Homo sapiens: one gene and its partners. The protein of the gene in region 1 purifies or fractionates together with the protein of each later gene. This does not show direct contact. Each region holds a gene or a part of one and is shown in the gene's direction. Other genes may lie near its edges.

Region 1 (7,023 bases):
TAGTATTTACCATTCAGTTAAATCTCATGTGCCATGTGCCTTCTACACCCCTGTACTGTGAGAGGTGATGCTCAGAATAACAGTTGCAAAGCCCGTTAAAATTACCACTTGTCAGATTTTCTCTTCATAGTGCTGATCTCTCCATGACTTACGTTTTAGGAATCACCACCTCTCTTCTAATTTTCTGACTAATGTTCTGTTAATGAGAGAATTGTCTTAACCCTAAAACCTGCATTCCCTGAGCATTCTAGACAGAGGGTTTATTTTATGTGGTGGAACGATGATTTTTGAGATTGTTTTGATTTAAAATATATGTCAAATGAGGTAATGTACCGATGGCCAAGGTATGGGTAATTTGAGTGCAATTCGCCAGAATCCGTGCCCCTTGGAGGGAGTAAACATTTCAGGACTGCAGCTAAAACATTGACTTACACTCTCCTGAAGCCCAGGCACCTGGCTTACACAGTGCACTAACATAACTGAAGTCTGGGTTTGATCACTGTACAGTTGACAAAGAAGCAGTAAGCAGAATGGTTAAAAAGTAGTTCTGGAGCCAGACTGCTTAAGGTCAGGTTCTGGTTGTGTCACCCACTTTAAAGCCTTGGGCAAGCTCTTCTACCTGGTAACTAGTGCCTCATTGTTTCCTCTGTAAAACAGGGGTGGTGATAGTAGAATCTGTATCAGAGAGGTTGTTGTGAGGATTATATGCGTTAATACGGGGTAAGTGGTTAGAACAGTGCCAGCTTTATAAGAAACATCAAGTGTTAGGTGTTATTATCTGTTGTTCAGAATCAGGGAAGTACTTAGTTACACAGTAGTGTTTTATAGCTGTTGAGAGCTGAATTGCCGGCATTGATCACAAGTGAGACTGGAAAAACAACCCGGGGAACACTCTTATGTTAAGTCAGTAGCACCATCTCAAACATACATCCAACTTCTGAGGGCAACGAACACAGGACATAGCTTTTTACTTAAAGGAATCTTAACAGTCTCAGCGGAGTGCTTGAGGTAGTCACTAACCAGTTAATTGAAACTGGCTTTTACGAAATAAAAACACTTGCCATTCTTTGGCTAGTCTTTTCCACGTTGTAGTTGACATTGTGGCCTGGCAGCTTTAGTAACCTGTCCACCCCTCCCTTCTTGTTAATACCAGAACAGAACTAGTTTCTCAGTACATATTCCTGGGCCCTATCCAGTTTGTTGGAAACATTTAGAATGTAAATTTGTAAGCTAATTAGTTTCTTCTAAGTATTATGTTTTCTTTAGATGATATGCCTGTACTAATACAGAAAAATTATCCATGAAATGGATATGAATACAATGGACATATTTATCGTATAGCTTTTTGTACCTGTTAGTAATTCAGAAAGGTTGTGTTATTTTGACCATTCTTTCAGCCAGATTGTAAGTTTCCTGATGGTGAGAATCTGTGTCTTTCTGTTTTATCTCCTATGGCACTCTGAATGTGCCTTGGCTGTGTTTCTTTAATAAACTGTTGGTTGCTGAACTGGGTGGTATGATATGCGTTCATTCTAGTTCTGTGATTTTGAAACTTGGGAATGTTTAACAGATTGAAGGAGAGAACATCGTGTGTGGTACCTTGTAAGTGTGCACTGAGTTGAAATTCTTTTGATTATTTAGCTTTCTACTTTCTGTTTTTATCATTGGTGTGATTATTGAGAAGGCAGCTGGAATTAAGTAATTCTAGTTCATCTCCTAAGATAGACATAAAACTTGTCTTGTGACTTATTTTTACCCATAATTGGATTAGAATTGAATTGAGCAAAATATAATTTGGTTTTCTAGATGTTAAATGTCTTATATGTCTAATACTTTGAATATCACTCCTCTAGAACAGGTTCTTTGTTTTATTTAGGATCAGGGACAGGTTAGAAAATATTCAAATATTCATAGGATAATAAAAAACTGCCCTGAAGCAAACGTGAGGAAGAAGAAATAGTGGTAGCCAGAATCTTGGTTGTTAATGACCAGTGTAGAAACACAGTGGGCATGCAGTGAAATTGGCTGGCAGCTGGTTCCTTCTCAGTACGGGCACAATTTAGAAAATGTTACATTAATGCAGCTGAAATTTTGTGCAGATCATGTTATTTGAAAAATAAATGTAAACACTTTTTGCAGTGCCTTAGGAAAGTCATCGTTCAAACTAATATTTTTGTAATAAACTAGTTATTCCCAGTTTTTTTTTTCTTTTTTTTTTTTTTGAGATGGAGTATCACTCTGTCGCTCAGGCTGGAGTGCAGTGGCGCGATCTCGGGTCACTGCAACCTCCGCCTCTTGGGTTCAAGCAATTCTTCTGCCTCAGCCTCCGTAGTAGCTGGAATTATGGGGCACCCCCCACCATGCCCAGCTAATTTTTGTGTTTTAGTAGAGATGGGTTTCACCATGTTGGCCAGGCTGGTCTCGAACTCCTGACCTCAAGCAATCCACCCGCCTTGGCTTCCCAAAGTGCTGAGATTACAGGCGTGAGCCACTGTGCCTGGCCCCTAATTATTCCCAGTTTCTTTCAGGTAAAGTTTTTTTCACTTTTTAAATTTATCATTTTTTTAGATCAGATCAGTCAGTGGACAGTTGCACTCTACTTCCCCATCCCTCATTAAAGTGGAATTACACTAAAAAAGGTTTTCAATTCCTTTGTAGCCTGGACATTAGTAATAGCCTACCTCTAAGGCTGTAGAGTAAATAGTATAGTAAGGGAAATGTCCCTCCCTCCCCCTACACACCTTTTTTCCAGTTATCTCTTCTTTTTATTGATTTGTCTGCCTCCAGGACCCTAGGGAGGTGTTTTTGTCCTAAGGAGGTGAACTCCTGAGGGTCCTATTGAAGAAATAGGGCGACCTATCCACCCAACTTCCTCTTTACTGATATCTTCACATGCTTATTGCCTTATTCATTTTCTAAAGTGTGCCAGCGTCTTTCAGAAGTCAGCTAAATTAGTGCAGTTGCTCATCCATCAGACAGTTTTGTTATAAAATATGTGGCTATAAAAGATTGAATAAATTTATTAGGTTGTAATTTCATTAATGTGTATTTTATATTTAAATATTATTTTAAAAAATGTACAGTGGTTATCTGATCTTGGCCCAGGCCTCTTCAATTTCCAGTGTACCTGATGTCTCTTTATCAACTGTTTTTCTGAGGTGTATCTCAGCCTGGCCTTGGGTACTCCCCTAGGTAAGAGTCATAATTCAGGTTAAAAGAGGTAAGAAAAAAAAAAGCTTTTGGCTTTTGTAATCTTGTTTTTTTTTTTTTCTTTCACATTAGCAAAAGACTGTTGAAGTAGAGAGCATTTTGCCCAGCTCACTCGGATTCTTTGCTGGCATGCCTTCAGTTTCAGTTGTCATCCAGAGAAGTCAAAGGAAATGCTGCTTGGGGATGAGCATGTAATTACGATTAACTTTCCCTACTTCGTTGTCTCTTTGTGGTAAAAGACTGTCACAAGTGCTATTCAAACTATAGGTATTTTTTTTTAGATTTCTAAAAAGTATATTTTGTCTCTGAGGGCCTCCTGTCTTTGGACTAGTTTGTCTTTTTCCAGACCCCAGAAAGGCTGGGCCACCTTTTCTTCTTTGAGCAGGTTGGCAACAGTGGTCACAAATAGCAGAGGAGCTGAGATTCTAGAGAGCTATCCTACCACTGCTTCTCAGATGCCAGTGTGGAAACAGCCTCTTCTTTTTTGTTGAATTAGCTTGGAACAGCTCTCTAATCTCTGAAGAGTGAGGAAAAACTGTGTTTTTAAGTTTCAAGGCTAAGGCACTGTGTTCTCTTTTCTCCCTGTTCCTGCTGCTGTTCTCCCCCAACTCACATGAACGCATACTTAACTTTCAGTGTATGTGGACAGTAGGGTTGCTAAATTCATGTCAATATTTGTGGCATTCCTACATGTTAGGCATTTGGTTTACATTTAACTTATGAAACAAATGTTTAGGCTTTTATAAGCCAGGAACTTTTCCAGATATTGGCAATAATGAACTTTTCAGAAGTTACAGTCTAATAGACAGGCAAACTATTCCCATAGCATGCTATAGTAGCAACATGTAAAATGTGCTGTGGAACCACAGACTATTAAAAGCCTAAGTTTTGGGAAATCAAGAAAGCCTTAGGGATGTTTAGTGATGAATGCATAGGTTAGTGGAGGAAACAACTTGTATCAACTCAATTTGAGAAGCTTAGCTGTGAATAAGAGGAGAGAGAAATAGATTTTAGTAGGGAGAAGTTGGGTCAGGAAGAGTGTGTGTGTGTGTGTGTGTGTGTGTGTGTGTGTGTGTGTGTATTTAAAAATCCAGTCAATGGAAAAAGGTTGAAGATGCAGGCAACGTCCTTGTTTTGTCCTTGGCAAGTTCCTCTTATGGTTGCAAGATGGCTGCCACAAGTTCAAGTGTCACAAGAAAATATGACTTAAGTTTCCTGGAAGAAGACACACTTTTTTTTTTTTTTTCCTAGGTTGTTGCTATCAGTGAGAAAAATTTTTCCCTAAAGCCTCATAGCAGATGCTACCTTGTCCCTCTCTCCTCTCTTCATAGGTCAGCATTGCACACAAGCCAGTGCCTAAATGAGTCAAGGTCAAGGGGAATAGTACCGCTGTGATTGGCATAAATGGATCGTGATTCATCTTAGGTTGTGGCTGGGGTCTACTTCCTTGGAAGTTGATGGCCTCGGGTTGAGAGTAGATACGTGAGCACAGTCAGGGTTTGGTTAGAAAGTGAGGGGGTGAATGGTGTTGTGCAGTTAACAGTGACATCCTTGTCTACTAGTTCTGCCACCACTACACTTAGATACAAACTTCGGAGGAGAAAAAGAAAATGTGCTTGCCTTTGGATTTGGAATTTTAGGTGACTTTTTTTCCTCTTATATGCCATTTCCTTCTATGATCAAGTAGCACTTTTACAATCAAATCAAATCAATGGTTTATTTAAAAATTATTTAAAAATTGAAAATGCCAATTTTGTCAATAAATATATATAGAAGAAATAATTTTTTTTTTCAATGCTTTAAACATTTCAAAAGTTCCCTGCCATTGTCTTATTCCTTTCAGGGAGAGGAGAACATATAATTATATCTTGTAGTTTCTGATTATGTGTATACTAAGAGGACTACTCTGTCCCTCAGTCCATAGTGCACACCCACCTGTGGTCTCTATGGCTTGCACTGAGTGCTGAGGCCAGCCTGGCTCAGATAGAATTGTTAGTTCATTGGCTAGATGGGTCAGGATTCTTTAGAATGCAAATTCTTGAATCAGGAGTACAAACAGGAACATCTTCCCTTTTCTACACACTCATTCCCCTCCTCGAAGGGAAAGCTGTCCCGTAGTTAGCTTATTCGTCATTCTTTTCAGACTTTAAAATTAATGCCACCTTAAGTTTATACAGTATTCTTGTAGTACTCCTAACTTTTCTGTTTTGCTGTATGTGTACATTGTAGAAAGATTAAATCAAGCTAATTAACATGTCCATTACCTCACTTACCTTTGTGTGTGTGTGTGTGTGTGGTGAGAACCTTTAAATCTACTCTCTTAGCAATTTTGAAATACAGTAGGATCCCCACCCACTGTTTTACTTTCAGCAGTTTGTTACCTGTGGTCAGATGAAGTCCAAAAATATTAAATACAATAGATATTTTGAGAAAGAGACAAACATCACATTCACATAACTTTTATTACAGTATATGGTTATAATTGTTGTATTTTATTATTGTTAATCTCTTACTGTGCTTGATGAAAAAGCATAGTATATATATAGGGTTTGTTACTATCTGCAGTTTCAGGTATCCACTGGGGTTCTTGGAATGTATCCCCTGTAGATAAGGGGGACACCTGTGTATGTTGTTACAAGTATGATCACTGTGTAAAAGCACTTTTGTATTTCATTCTTGTTCCTTCTCAATCGCAGGTCTGGGTGCTTTCTGTGCTGTGAAAGGCAGACAAATAATGTAAATCCTAAACACTTGAGTGTTGTAAATTTACAAAATGAGAATTGCTCAATGGTTGTTTCTTTTTGAGAGTAACAAATAGACTGTGATAAATGGCCAGAGTAGGCTTCTGAACTGGTATTAGTTTTTTGGATAGAATTTAGAAAGACTTGTACTACCAATATAATTTTTGTCTCAGATAAATGCAATAGTATTTCCCTACTCAGTAGTTCCTCAGATGCTATTTAAACTGAGCTATATTTCAGCTTTATTTATAGGCTGCAAATTGTTCCTTATTTGGCTGAATCTTGTGGTTATGATATAATGAAAAGTAGTTACTGAGATCACTGGTGCAAATCTGTAGCTTGGAAATCCTCATTTTAGAAATGATTATTTTGACTCCCAAGTTAAATAGTAAAAAATAGACTTATGTTTTTAGTTTTAGCTATGTATATTGAGAAACTGTGGCCCTACGGTGGCTGTTAGGGATTAGTGGATTAGGTTGTTTTTAAATAAGACATTTCAGTTTAGTATCTCTACTTGAATAAAACAGTTTCAAATTTGTGATTCATATGATATACTGATTGCCCTACGGTAACTTCTGTTTTATTTAATTAAAATTGTTAACATTCTTTTTTATACTCTTAAGCACCTCCCTCCACCCTCACCCCCCTTTTTGACTCAAATTTTATTGTGAGTTGGTGTATAGTTAGGAATTTGAAGAGCACTTTTTTTGTTTATTTTATCTTTTCGGTTACTATGCATACTATGTGTGTCAACTCTTAAACCTGCAGGGGGTCATTTTGGCCATCAACTAGTTTTAGGGCTTTCGCCTCCTAAAGAATATGAATTATGGTTGTAATTTTTACAGTTTAAAAAACAAGATGGCATATGAAGAATCTTTATTTCATTATGAAAATAGAACATGGATGCTTAATCCTCTGTATTGAAAGTAACTTGTAGTGAAATACTTCCTAGTGTTCTCTTCTTCTAGTTGTCCATATGTAGTATGTATAACTATAGACCTTGATGATTTAAGTTGAGCACAGTTTAGTGTCAGGTTCCTTTCAGTGATGCATGAGATTGGTTATATGATCT
Region 2 (6,837 bases), on another chromosome or scaffold:
TGCAAGCTCCGCCTCCCAGGTTCACGCCATTCTCCTGCCTCAGCCTCCCGAGTAGCTGGGACTACAGGCGCCCGCTACCACGCCCGGCCAATTTTTTGTATTTTTAGTAGAGACGGGGTTTCACCGTGTTAGCCAGGATGGTCTCGATCTCCTGACCTCGTGATCCGCCCGCCTCGGCCTCCCAAAGTGCTGGGATTACAGGCGTGAGCCACCGCGCCCGGCCGCATGTTTCTTAATCTAATAAAAATACTAATCTCAAATCAATAGCTAGATAGTTAAGGCATTCCTGTTAAAGTCAGGAATAAGATAAGGAAGTTGGCTACAAACATTATTATTAGACATGAATCTGGAAGTGCTATTTTATTATCAGTCAAGATAATAATAATAATTGCAAAGCAGGAAGCAAAAGAGTTATTATGTATAAGGTTATGTAATTATTAAAAATTGATAAATAAGCTGAAAATTAAAACAAGAAAGTTTGGTGCACTAGTCAGTTAAAAATTTAACAGAAAAGACAAATAGCTGTCCTACATAGTAACAATAACCATTTAGAAATAGAACGGAAGAAATAATCAATTTTATGCAAAGTTTGCATAAAAACTAGGTAAAGTTTGCATAAAAACTAGGTGAAAGAAATGAATAAATTTAATGCAATTTCCATAAAAATTCTAGCTTTTTTGAACTTGGAAAGTCTTCTAAAGTTATGTGGAGAAATAAATACTTAAGTATAGCTAGAAAATTCTAAGAAAGTACAAGTAACAAAGAGGGACTTGCCATATGAGATATGAGAATGTAATATAAACTCCAATAAAAAGTGGAGTGATTTTGCTTCTGGAATTGCAGAACTGATCAATAAAATAGATAAAGACCAGAAACAGATCCAAGTGTATGTAAGAATTTAATATATGGCATGTTGGGAAGTCAGTGGGACAAGTACGGATTATTCAATGAATTGATAAGTGGATTTTTTTTTTTTTACATAGTCTTACTCTGTCTCCCAGGCTAGAGTGCAATGGCGTGATCTTGGCTTACTGCAACCTCCGCCTCCAAGGTTCAAGTGATTCTTGGGCCTCAGCCTCCCAAGTAGCTGGGATTACAGGCATGTGCCACCATACCTGGCTAATTTTTTTCTAATTTTTTGTATTTTTAATAGAGATGGGGTTTCACCATGTTGGCCAGGCTGGTCTTGAACTCCTGACCTTAAGTGCTCCACCTGCCTTGGCCTCCCAAAGTGCTGGGATTACAGGTGTGAGCTGCTGAGCCTGGTCTTTGATAAATTGACTATTTAAAAATTACAGCCTGAGAAGCAGCTTTACAACTCCACCCCTAGTAAATGGTAAAATGATTTTTAAAAAAAGTTGGAAAATGTAAGAGACAAAGGGATGTTTTCCTTATAATGTAAAGAATTCACATAAATCAAGAAGAAAAAAGACAAACATCTTCCCTGAAGAACATTTTTTCCCTACTTCAAAGAAAAATGAGTTAGGGAAGTGAAAATCCTATTCGCATTAGATGTCAATTGGTCATGTGACAAACATTCAACCTTCCAATAATCAAAGAAAAGCGAATCTGGGCAGTTGCAGTGGCTTGCGCCTGCAATCCCAGCACTTTGGGAGGCTGAGTCGGGCAGATCACCTGAGGCCAGGAGTTCGAGACCAGCCTGACCAACATGGTGAAACCCCATTTCTACTAAAAGTACAAAAAATTAGCCAGGCATGGTAGTGGGTGGGGGTTGGCGGCGGGGGGTGGGGGGTTGGTGTCTCTCTATGTTGCCCAGGCTGGTCTTGAACTCCTGGGCTCAGGCAATCCTCTTGCCTCGGCCTCCCAAAGTGGTAGGATTACAGGTGTGAGCCACCACGCCCAGCCAAATCATGTGTATTTAAAACAAAATTTCGTAATTTAAAAAATATAATCAGTTAATAATATTGAATTTTGCCTAAGGGGAAAATGTAGTTGGATGGGATTACCAGCCATACAAAACACCTGTACTCAAGGGAGGCCAGAGTATACATATATCACCTTGAACTGTGTGCTCTTGTACTTTGGCAAAATCTTTCCTAATGGAATGTTAAGCAGGACAAGGAGTCCTTTTATTTATTCTTCTAGATACCACAGGTCATACTTTTTTCACACCTTGAAATAATTGTTTTCATTCAGGTGAGCTTTAGTGTTATGGCTTCAGTCAAAACTGTAGACTTTATTCACTCACTCACTCAATATTTGTTGAAGCCTATGCAGTACCAGGCACGTTTCTCAATATTTGGGACCTGTCAGTGTTCAACTTCCCTGGACCTTGCTTTCTGTGTCTCTAAGAAATACTGTATAGAAGCAGCTATCCTCGAGGATATCTACTACATTATTCAGTATCCTATAGAGAAGTTTCTTTAAGATTTAAGAACTAGAAGAGCAGTTAAAGAATTCATGTATATTTTACTCATGAACAAAGGAAAATTCATTTCTCTTTTTTTGTTTGGGCTGTCAGGAAACAATTTTTAGCCCAATTCAAACAACTGAGTAAGATATTGCATCCATCCAATTCCAAGATTAACCTTTTCCCCTTTCAGAAATCCTTCTCTTCCTAGTTCATCTTTTATTGGCCTTGCTTTTTAAAAATTCAAAATGTTTTGTTTTACTATATTCTAATGTACTTGTAAACTGCTTCAAATCTCAAATCCCTTGTGGGATGTGAACCTAAATATCTGTATTTGTAAACTGCTTCAAATCTGAAATCCCTTGTGGGATGTGAACCTAAATAACAAACAGAAAAGGTCTCTAAAATAAAAGACATGTTTTGAGAATGGAGCATTTCAGTGGGAAAACGCATGCCATAGTAAACTATGTGTGTATTCAGGAAGACGAAGGAAGACAAAGAGTTTTAAAGGAAAAAAAAATGAGGATGGTTACACATTGTTTTGAACTAATTATCTTAGCTACAAAGGTCAATAACAAGGGTGACGTCAGTTAAAGGTTGGACAGGCAGTTTCTGGGCAGACATCCTTGCAGAGGTTTTGTATAAGGTCGTGATGGTCTTTGTGCAACGTTGTGGTTTTTACAGTCTTTGTTTTCAGGCATACAAGCATGAGTACCCTCTCTTCATAGCCTTTCCTGGCTCTATTTGTCAGAGTTTTTGTTTGTTTGTTACCCAAATGCAGTAAGTCAGTACTGATTGGATTTTGGCTCAAGTGAAAACATCTACTTACAAAAATGGCAAGAACAACTGAAGACAATTTTTGTAAGCAATGTTGTATTCTACATTCATTTTGCTTTGGTTTTAATTTTTTTTAATTGACAAATAATAACTGTCATATTCATTGGGTACATAGTGATATTTCTATACATATGGAATGTAGTGATCAGGTTAGGGTAACTAGCATATCCATTATCCAACTGAGGACATCTAGTATGGCCCAGGTATTAAATAGTATTAGTAAACGATTGTTAATTTTCTGAAGACTTGGTAATAGTATTATGATTATGAAAAAAAAGTCCTTATTTTTAGAGATGCACACTGAAGTACGCAGGGGTGTGGTGTCTCATCTGCAACTTTAGGATGATTCAGCAAAAAAAAAATTTACAAGCATTTATGTAAAGATAAAGCAAATATAGCAAAATGTTGTGTTGAACTGTTGAGTCTGGGTATTGGGTGGTATTGAATTAGGGTGGATAAATCTAGAGACTTGTTATTTTTGCCGCTGTTATTATGACATCACTAGAAAGCTGGAATTATTCCCACTCTAAAGCACCCTGAAATCTCGCGACACTACGGCCTGGTGGCGCGCGAAACGCGGTGGGCGGGACTGGGGCGAAAACCACTGACTTCCGGCTACGCCGTTGTCTGGGTGGCGCGGTCGAGTCATCGCAGGGCCTCACCGCTTCGTTCTCCCGTCCCTCCCCGCGCCTTGGCGCGGGGGGTCGACTAGCCAAGTGAGGCGGGAGGCGACTCGGACCTTTCCCTGCATTTCGTTTCGGCCAGTGCCGGGGGCTACCCGCCCTGGGGCCTGGGATCCTTGGGGCCCGTGAGGCCCACTCTTAGCGGCCGGGGCCTACCGCGGCCCGCCGCTGGCCCTCATGAGGCATAGCCTGACCAAGCTGCTGGCAGCCTCGGGCAGCAACTCCCCAACCCGCAGTGAGAGCCCGGAGCCGGCTGCAACTTGTTCGCTGCCCTCTGACCTGACCCGGGCTGCAGCGGGGGAGGAGGAGACGGCGGCGGCCGGATCTCCCGGCCGCAAGCAGCAGTTTGGCGACGAAGGAGAGTTGGAAGCCGGGAGGGGGAGCCGCGGCGGCGTGGCCGTGCGCGCGCCCTCCCCCGAGGAGATGGAGGAGGAGGCGATCGCCAGCCTCCCGGGGGAAGAGACGGAGGATATGGACTTTCTGTCTGGGCTGGAACTGGCGGATCTCCTGGACCCCAGGCAACCGGACTGGCACCTGGACCCCGGGCTTAGCTCGCCGGGGCCTCTCTCCTCGTCTGGCGGAGGCTCGGATAGCGGCGGCCTGTGGAGAGGGGACGATGACGATGAGGCCGCGGCTGCTGAAATGCAGCGCTTCTCTGACCTGCTGCAAAGGCTGTTAAACGGTATCGGAGGCTGCAGCAGCAGCAGTGACAGTGGCAGCGCCGAAAAGAGGCGGAGAAAGTCCCCAGGAGGAGGCGGCGGTGGCGGCAGCGGTAACGACAACAACCAGGCGGCGACAAAGAGTCCCCGGAAGGCGGCGGCGGCCGCTGCCCGCCTTAATCGACTGAAGAAGAAGGAGTACGTGATGGGGCTGGAGAGTCGAGTCCGGGGTCTGGCAGCCGAGAACCAGGAGCTGCGGGCCGAGAATCGGGAGCTGGGCAAACGCGTACAGGCACTGCAGGAGGAGAGTCGCTACCTACGGGCAGTCTTAGCCAACGAGACTGGACTGGCTCGCTTGCTGAGCCGGCTGAGCGGCGTGGGACTGCGGCTGACCACCTCGCTCTTCAGAGACTCGCCCGCCGGTGACCACGACTACGCTCTGCCGGTGGGAAAGCAGAAGCAGGACCTGCTGGAAGAGGACGACTCGGCGGGAGGAGTCTGTCTCCATGTGGACAAGGATAAGGTGTCGGTGGAGTTCTGCTCGGCGTGCGCCCGGAAGGCGTCGTCTTCTCTTAAAATGTAGGGTCAAGTAATCTGCTCTTTATCCGCGTTTACCCCTTTCAACTCCCTTACACCATGTCAAACTTACCTTAGTGGGACATCTTCACCGGACACATTTCAGAGGAGAGAAAAAAAGTAATATTGAATCTTAAAGTGTTTAGCTAAAAGCATGAATGTGACACAGTAACCAACTCCTAATGATAACATGTGACTATTAAATCTCTCTGACAGTTTCTTTTTTAGGTGATTTCCTTCCTGCCAGGCTCCGTTGTAGGGGTTACAGAACAGTCGTTCCCGCCTCACAACCTGGTAAGGATCCATCTCTTCCCGTAACGCTCATGCTCTGCTGCTTTGTCTACTTTAATGGGCAACATCTCAGTTTGTGTGTGTGTGATTTTTTTTTTTTTTTCTGTTTTGGAAGGTGGGAGGGAAATCTAATTTGGGCCCTGTCCACCCTGGAAACAGACTTGTGCTGGTCAAGAATGTATTTAAGATGCCTCTTCTGGTTGAAATAGCTATTAATGTGTCCCCTTATTCAGACTTGCGTGTACCTAGCTCTTCTGTCCCCAGTGTGGACATGGCCTTGGATGACATCGGTTCCAACTGTACACTGAAACCTGCTTATAGAGAGACAGTTTGGAGACAGTGAAACAGGTGAAGTTGAATGGAAGTTCCGAGTTGTACAAGGTGCAAATTGGAATTCCGATTTTAGGGCAACTTTTCAGAGGTTGACAGTTAAGTATTTGGGGCATGCACAAATGTGATAGTTATTTTGCTGGAGGTGACAGGTATCTCTTAAATATCAACAATGCCTTTTAGTTTTCAGTATGAGATATAGAAACAGTCTATAATGGAGTAACATTTTAATGTCTCACCATTAGAGAAGTTGGAAATTAACATACATATGAGACTCCTGCGTTTTAGTTAATTGGAGAATAAGAATGGCTAATGTTTCTTTGAGGACCAGCAGTGATTACCCTATCACTGAGATTGAATAAATTGTTGAACATCTTTATTTTTGTTGTATTAAAATTTTAGGTTAAATTTATATATGTATGATTAGATATTGAAGGTTGTGAAATGTGAATGAAAACGTGTAAAGTGAGGCTTCACAAAGAATCTTATTCTCTGTGTTTCAAAAGTATTTGTCCTATTTTAAAATAATTTTTTAAATTGAGTGGTTCTGGCCACTTAAATGACACGATTGGTACTATTTTCCTAAGGTGGGATTTATTCCCTTGAATCTATTAACCAGTTGTATAAATTGAATTATGGTGTCCTTCAGTGTAAGAGGCATTAAGAAATTCTTTGTGAAACATCACTGCTTGATAAAGTATATACGTATTTAGCATCCTTGTTTTTCTTTGTGCTAAAGTGGATACAGCTGTTGGGGCAGAAGAGACGGGACCAGCTGCTGGCCACATTTCCTGCTTTATTTTAAAAGGTAGTATAAGAAATGAGGAAAAAGAGGTAATATCAGGGCTTCTGCTGTTTTTTATTTTTAACATGTTCATAATTAAAAAGTATTTTCCAGCAGTCCAAAGATGTAAGTTATCTTACACATAAAATGTTTTATTTTGTTATTTGGTTATGAAAATGGAATCCTTGTTCTTGCACAACTGTAAATGTTTTGTTGCTAGATAATACGATTTGAGACCTGAATTGGTCTTTGGTTTCCAGTGCATCACAGCATATTTTGTAAAATCATCTACTACTGCACTTGAGC
Region 3 (7,526 bases), on another chromosome or scaffold:
GGGAGTAACCAGGCAAAGTCAACCAGATGCCTAGCTCCTGCTGAGACCCAGGTCCTATGGCAGCTCCTCATTAGATTAAAGGAGACCACTTCCAAAGCAGGTGCTGCATGGCTCACCATCATATGCCCCAAACAACTGAAAGTTGGCGGTTATCACCAGACTGTGAGTTTCTGGCAAGTAGCTTGGGGAAGCTGAATAAACTCTAGGCCCAGGGCTACTAAAGACTTCAGGATAGAATTCTCCATCAAATATACAGCATAAGTAAAACTGCTCTGCACTGTTTAATCCATTTCCAAGGGGCTTAGAAAAGCTAACAAGGGTGTGTCCCCTGTCCTGCCCCACCGGTTTGCTGGCTTTGTAATAACATAAGACCATTGTGGTTGTTGGTGTCAGATACCTTCCCATCCTGAGCTCTCTCACCTACCTGCTCTCTCTCCTAGAGCAGGATACTGGGGTACTTTTAAGAAGGGTGCTCCTTTTAAGATGCCCAGAAAAGCTGTATTTAACTCTTGCTATTTGTAACTTGGGGATGGTCTCCCCTGCCCCAGGGCACATAAGAGCAAAGGCTCCAATGGTCAGTGGATGACTCTGCAAAAGTGACCCCCTGTGCCAGAAGCTATAGCCCTCTCCCCAACAGGTCTCTCTTGTTGGCCAGAGGGCCTGCTTCCCATGGGCATTGCAAGTGCCACCGTGCGGGGCCTGGCTCTGCACACCCAGGAAAAGTCTGCAGACCCCCAGCCCTCCGCAATAATTCACCAGACCAGAAGCCACTGGTGTACAGAGAACACTTAAAAAAATGTATTTTATGTGAAAAAAAATTAAAACTCTGTATACTGTATCAGCAGCTTTGTGTAAAAATGGCAATCAAGAGAGTCTAATATATTTAAAACTTTTTTAAAAAAAATCTTCGCAGATCTTTGATATCGTACTGAGGTAACTTCCACGTAGCCCCTTGCCACGCGGCACCGGTGGGCCTTGGGTCCAAAACTGTGGCTCAGCCACATCCCAAAGGGGGCACATGTCCCTGGAGTTGCTTCCAGCTGCCAAGGCCTGTGACAGAATTCGCTGTTAAGAGTTTTTAATTAAAATTATTAAATTCCTTTTAATAACACCTGCTAGTGTGAGTGATTATTGCTGTGAGCTCACTTGAACAGTGCTGACTTGAATTCACAAAGAGGAGGTTCCTGGAATAGAGGGTGGGTGAGAGCTCCTAGTCTCTTCCCCCTTACCCCACCCCTTTCCCACAGAGGGCTTTCCCATGAGACCCCTGAAATAGAGGGAGCTCTGGGGGCTCAGACCTGGAGCAGATGTCTCCCCAGACTAGGAGATGGTGAAAACTGATGAATTCAAGAAAAGGTGGGTGGTTGGGAATGACCTTCATTCTGTCAAATAATCTCTTTGAAATTAACATGAGGCCGTATAGTAGCATATATTTATTCCATACATTTTCAAAGTTTTTCCTGATATTTATTTATTTATTTTTATTTTTTTAAGATGGAGCCTCACTCTTTCACCCAGTCTGGAGTGCAGTGGCGTGATCTCAGCTCACTGCAACCTCTGCCTCCCGGGTTCCAGCAATTCTCCTGCCTCAGCTTCCCAAGTAGCTGAGATTACAGGCGCTCGCCGTGATGTCCAGCTAATTTTTTGTATTTTTAGTGGAGATAGAGTTTCACCATGTTGGCCAGGCTGGTCTCCAACTCCTGACCTCAAGTGATCCTCCCGCCTTGAGCTCCCGAAGTGCTGGGATTATAGGCGTGAACCACCACGCCCCGCCTCTCATGACATTTATATGTAACAAGGGTGCCCCTCTCCTCTGTCCCATTCTTGGAGTGAACTGACATGTCCTGTCCTCTTCCCCCTGCCCCATTCCACTCTTTCCCCTCGTGTGCTTATTGTGGGGAAGTACGATACTATAAAGTACTTCACCTTATGACAGCAATACAGCAGCTAAGGCCCCGGCCATTCTCATTTTTTACCTCGAGCATTAAAGGCATAGAGAAGCTATGTGGTTGCACAGCCTCAGACCACAGTCCTTGGTCCTTGTCCCACACAGAACTTTGTTGGTGTTTTTCTTGAAAGAGGATGAAAAGGGTGTCGGATCACAAGGTCAGGAGTTCGAGACCAGCCTGGCCAACGTGATGAAACCCCATCTCTACTAAAGATGCAGAAAATTGGCCAGGTGTGGTGGCATGAGCCTGTAATCCCAGCTACTCAGGAGGCTGAGGCAGGATAATCGTTTGAACCCTGGAGGCGGAGGTTGCAGTGAGCCGAGATCACGCCATTGCACTCCAGCCTGGGTGACAGGGCAAGACTCCGTCTCAAAAAAAAAAAAAAAAAAAAAAAAAAGAAGGTGCTCTCTTGCAGCCTCCCGGACCCTGGATACCAGCGCAGGGACACATGGAAGTCCCCACACTTATTCTTGAGAAACTTCACAAAGGGATGGGGATGGGGAGAGGAGAGGTAGAGAGGGAGAGGCGTCTCAACAGCGGCAGGCATTCATCCATTTAAAAAGGTTATTGGTTGCTAAATAATAATGGTAACATCTCACATTTATGACCCACTTTTCATTTACATAAAAAAGATGACGACTGAAAATTGACTGTTGGATTTAGCTCTGTGGAACTCATGATGAACCTGACAAGAGGTTTTGGTAAAGCAGTGGGGGTTTTAGCCTGATTGAAGAGGGCTGGAAGGGAACTGGAGACAGCAAGTATAGACAACTGGTTTGAGGGTTTCTTTTCTTTTCTTTTCTTTCTTTCTTTTTCTGAGACAGGGTCTTACTCTGTCACCCAGGCTGGGGTGCAGTGGTGTGATCATAGTTCACTACAGCTGCAAACTCCTGGGCTCAAGTGATCTCTTGCCTCAGCCTTCCCACTGGCTGGGACCATCATGAGCACTGCCATGCACTAAAAGTTAGGCGCACCACCATGCCCAGCTAACTTTTGTATTTTTTTGTAAAGACAGGGTCTCACTATGCTGCCCAGGCTGGTCTCAAACTCCTGGGCTCAAGTGATCCTCTTCCCTTGGCCTCCCACAGTGCTGGGATTACAGGTGTAAGTCACCATGGCCAGCCACATCTGAGATTCTATGCTGCAAAAATAAGAAGTGAGATGGGGAGCTTTAGAGGAATGTAGGGTCAAGAGAGGGTTGTTTTAAGATGAAAAATATTTCAGCATGCTTGTAGGCTGATAGAAATGAATCGGTAAAGAGGGAAGCTGATGTTCCAGGAGAAAGAAGAAGATTGCTGGAGCGATGCTGGTGAGTAGTAGAGGGGCTGGAAATGCCCAGGCAGAGGGGTTGGGGTTGGATGGGCACAGGCACAGTTCATCAATGCCCAGTATACGGGCAGAGATGCAGACAGGAAGGTAGACTAGATGGCCGCACGTGGACGTTCCCTTCTTACTGTTTCTGTGTTCTTGCTGACATGGAAGACAAGCTGTCAGAGAGGAAAAGGTAGAGAGAATGAGGGAAATGCGGCCTACCAGGCAGTTTTTTTGTTTGTTTGCTTTTGTTTTGTTTTGTTTTGTTTTTAGATGGAGTTTCGATCTTGTCGCCCAGGCTGGAGTGCAGTGGTGCTATCTCGACTCACTGCAACATCCGCCTCCCGCGTTCAAGTGATTCTCCTGCCTCAGCCTCCCGAGTATCTGGGATTACAGGCGTACACCAAGACACCTGGCTAATTTTTGTATTTTTAGTAGAGACGGGGTTTCACCGTGTTGGTCAGGCTAGTCTCAAACGCCTGACCTTAGGTGATCCGCCCTCCTCGGCCTCCTAAAGTGCTGGGATTACAGGCGTGAGCCACCGCGCCCGGCCTCCTAGCAGGCAGTCTTACGGATTATGAATTTAAAACATGACCAGTCAGTAAGCATGGTTACGCTCTTTTTGTTTTTTCTTCAGCCCTGTAGGGCTGCCGGGGTGCAGGTGGAAAGTAGGGTATAACCACGGTTGGTTGGGGTTTTACAAGGCAAAAATCGATGAAATGAGAGAAGACTACCCGAGGGTGTAATCAAAGGAGCAGTCCTAATACGATGAGCCGGTATTCTTTGAATGAATGAATACATGGTTAAAGGCAGGTGATAAAGGCGATATGGTTGGCCATGCCAAAGCACTGAGAGCCTAGGAGCAGCGTGGCCAGAGTCTCCGGGAGTCGGCACCTGCCTCTCCTCGTTGTCTAGGCCTGACTGTCCCTGGCCTTGCACGGCCGCGCAGCGGGGCGACCGGCAGGGGGCGCGCTGGGATGGCCAGGAGCTCGGCTCTCCCCGCTCTGTCCCTGCTCTGCGGCCCGCCTCGCCCCTGCAAGTTTAAATTCCTCTTAGCAAGCCCAGCATCGCAGCCAATAACGCATCAGGGGGCGGAGCCGTAGAGGCTTGCGCCCCGCCTCGCTCCGCTATTGGAAGGAAAGCAGCCAATGGGAGAGCCGAGGCGGGGAGGTGCGGCCAATGGCGCGGGCCTGTTTGATTCAAAGGTTGCCTATAAAGCGGGACTGCACGCCGGTTTTTGTCCGAGGGCTGTCGAGTCCGAGCGCCGCCATGGCTCTGCTGTCCGAGGGCCTGGACGAGGTGCCCGCCGCCTGCCTGTCGCCGTGCGGGCCGCCCAACCCGACCGAGCTGTTCAGCGAGTCACGGCGCCTGGCTCTGGAGGAGCTGGTGGCGGGCGGCCCCGAAGCCTTCGCGGCCTTCCTGCGACGCGAGCGCCTGGCTCGTTTCCTGAACCCCGATGAGGTGCACGCCATTCTGCGCGCGGCGGAGAGGCCGGGAGAGGAGGGCGCGGCGGCGGCGGCGGCGGCCGAGGACTCGTTCGGCTCCTCGCACGACTGCTCTTCGGGCACCTACTTCCCCGAGCAGTCGGACCTGGAGCCACCGCTGTTGGAGCTTGGCTGGCCCGCCTTCTACCAGGGCGCCTACCGCGGCGCCACGCGTGTCGAGACGCACTTCCAGCCCCGCGGCGCTGGCGAAGGTGGCCCCTACGGCTGCAAGGACGCTCTGCGCCAGCAGCTCCGCTCGGCGCGAGAGGTGAGCGGCCCTCCAGGGCCCTGGGTCGCACGGGAGACCCCCTTCAAGAATGGGAAATTGAGGCCTGCTGGGAGTACGGGCCGGGGCCACTACCTCCTCTGCGCCCTACCGGAAGCGCGCGCGGGCTAGGTGGTCCCAGGGTCTCCGACTCACACCCCACTCTGCGTGTCTCCCCCGGATCCCCCGGGCCGCTCCTCGTGGCAGGGGATAGTGGGAAAGCCTCGGTTCCCAAGGATGCGAATTGTGCCCGGGTTCCATCTCCTAACGTTCATATCCCTGAAGGAGGGACCAGAAGTACTCTGAGTTCCAAATTTCAGTTAAAATCAAACTTGGAAAATTGCCTATTTCCCTGTCTGTCAGCCAACGCTAGATCCCACTTTCAGGAGCTTCTTAGGAGACTCATTACCAAAGAACTTACGCAGGGAAAGTTCCAGAAAGATGGTCTCCAGAGACAACTACGGGGCATTAGGAAGCAATTATTATTGCTAATTACTTTCATGCATCTTTTGCTGTAAAAAGCAGATAAACACGAGAGTGGCAAAGTGAGAGCCCTGCCGCTTTTTCTTTCTTGTCTTTTTTTTTTTTTTTTTTTTTTGAGACAGATTCTCTTTTGCCCAGGCTGGAGTGAAGTGGTGGGATCTCAGTTCACTGCAACCTCCGTCCCCCGGGTTCAAGTGACTCTCCTGCCTCAGCCTCCCAAGTAGCTGGGATTACCGGTGCCCGCCACCACGCCCGGCTAATTTTTGTATTTTTAGTAGAGACGGGGTTTCTCCATGTTGGCCAAGCTGGTCTCGAACTCCTGACCTCAGGTGATCCACCCGCCTCGGCCTCCCAAAGTGCTAGGATTACAGGCGTGAGCCACCGCACCCGGCCCCCTGCCGCTTTTTCTACTGCCAGAGACTGGAGGGGAAACTGGGGCAAGGGGTTTGTTTTCCATAGGCTGGGTCTGTGCCAGATTGCAGTGGTCTCCTAAAATGCAGATACATTTGCATTAGATCGGCTTCTGTATTCATAGTGGGTTTTGGTCCTACTGTCTGACTCTTAGTATGGCATGGTCATGGGTGCAATGGAGGTCTTGTCTGCTTGCCAGCCTCGATAAAGCTGCAGCAGGGTGCTGGGGATCAAGGAGGAAGAAGGCAGCCTGCAGGTGGGTGTGGCACATAGAGTGTCGTGGCAGACACCTTGGTCTGGAGCCATGGTCAGGTTGCTTGCTGACTGGCAGTGCCCAGCTCCCTGGCTATCTGCCTGTGCCAGGGACATGGCAGATAAAGCCCCAGCCATGTTAAGACTTGTTAGGGCTGGTACCTGAGTGTGTCTGAGTGTGGGTGAAGATACCAGTGCATTGTCAGGTTGACATGTCCAAGCCCCGACTCTCACCAATGTTCTTAATGTTCTTTCCCTGACTGGTGGGGTTTCAGTGGTAGTGGATACAGTGACCTAGTGCCTTGCCTTTGAGGGAGTGGTTGTGGGCTGCAGCTAGGCTCTTACCAGCCCTGAGGTGCTTTGGGTGGACTGAGGGTTTTTTGATGCAGCAGACATTTTCCTTGCGGGTTCAGTGAAAAGATTAAAAAGATGGAAAAGGCAGACTTGTGTAGGTATGCATCCCCAAAGCTCATGTCCAGTAGAACTTGAGCACTTGGAACCTGAAAAATGTAAAGAACTGGTCTGTATAGTGAGAGCTGTGGATTGTTCTAGTCTTTTGCCCAGCCCCAAATTTTAGTGATAGCAAAAGGGCACTGGAACTAGAGGCCAGAGGGAAACTATTAAACTCACGTGCTGGCGTGAGGAGGGGATGGAGCCAGGAGCTCAGACTCTCCCTCATCTCACGGGCATTTTGTAATACTGACATTTCCAGATAGAACCTGCTGCCCTAGTCTAGCTACCCACAGTTCCCTCCGAGATGCTGTATTTGGAACCTGGGCAGTTTTAACTGAGAAAGGTGGTACATTACCTTTAAATCCAATGAGTATTGGCTGGGCACAGTGGCTCAAGCCTGTAATCCCAGCACTTTGGGAGGCTGAGGCAGGCAGATCACGAGGTCAGGAGTTCGAGACCAGCCTGGCCAACATCGTGAAACCCCGTCTCTACTAAAAATACAAAAATTAGCTGGACGTGGTGGTGCGTGCCTGTAATCCCAGCTACTTGGGAGGCTGAGGCAGGAGAATTGCTTGAACCTGGGAGGTGGAGGTTGTAGTGAGCTGAGATCACACCACTGGACTCCAGCTCTGGGCGACAGAGCAAGACTCCCTCTCGGAAAAAAAAAAAAAAAAAAATCCAATGAGTATTTTCAGTGTGTCCGATAGATGCCAAATTATTTGCTTACTCATTGCCTGCTGTGTATCAGACACTACCATGGCTGGGGCCACAGGGGAAGGCATCATCCTTGCCAACACTTGAGAGTGGACAGTGTGCTGATGGGAAACAGTGAGGAGTTTGCTGCAGGTACTGCGGAAAGGGCTAAAGAAAGAAAGTCTCCGGAGTGGCAGTGACCTCAGAGCTGGGTGGGGCTTGCCA

Evidence for each region. The genes of interacting proteins can lie anywhere in the genome.
Region 2: the proteins of BACH1 (region 1) and CREBZF purify together in Homo sapiens (co-immunoprecipitation; 3 studies listed by BioGRID and IntAct, with this or other methods). This does not show direct contact.
Region 3: the proteins of BACH1 (region 1) and FAM83D purify together in Homo sapiens (co-immunoprecipitation; 4 studies listed by BioGRID and IntAct, with this or other methods). This does not show direct contact.

The regions. Positions count from the first base shown.
Region 1 is NC_000021.9:29,301,922-29,308,944, forward strand, and holds part of BACH1 (transcription regulator protein BACH1), read left to right. Parts: intron 1-3,282; exon of another isoform or gene 3,283-3,401; intron 3,402-7,023. UniProt on the Homo sapiens protein: Transcriptional regulator that acts as a repressor or activator, depending on the context. Binds to NF-E2 DNA binding sites. Plays important roles in coordinating transcription activation and repression by MAFK.
Region 2 is NC_000011.10:85,662,107-85,668,943, reverse strand, and holds the start of CREBZF (CREB/ATF bZIP transcription factor), read left to right. Parts: upstream 1-3,814; 5' UTR 3,815-4,068; coding exon 4,069-5,133; 3' UTR 5,134-5,342; coding exon of another isoform or gene 5,343-5,358; 3' UTR 5,359-6,837.
Region 3 is NC_000020.11:38,921,914-38,929,439, forward strand, and holds the start of FAM83D (protein FAM83D), read left to right. Parts: upstream 1-4,503; 5' UTR 4,504-4,529; coding exon 4,530-5,012; intron 5,013-7,526.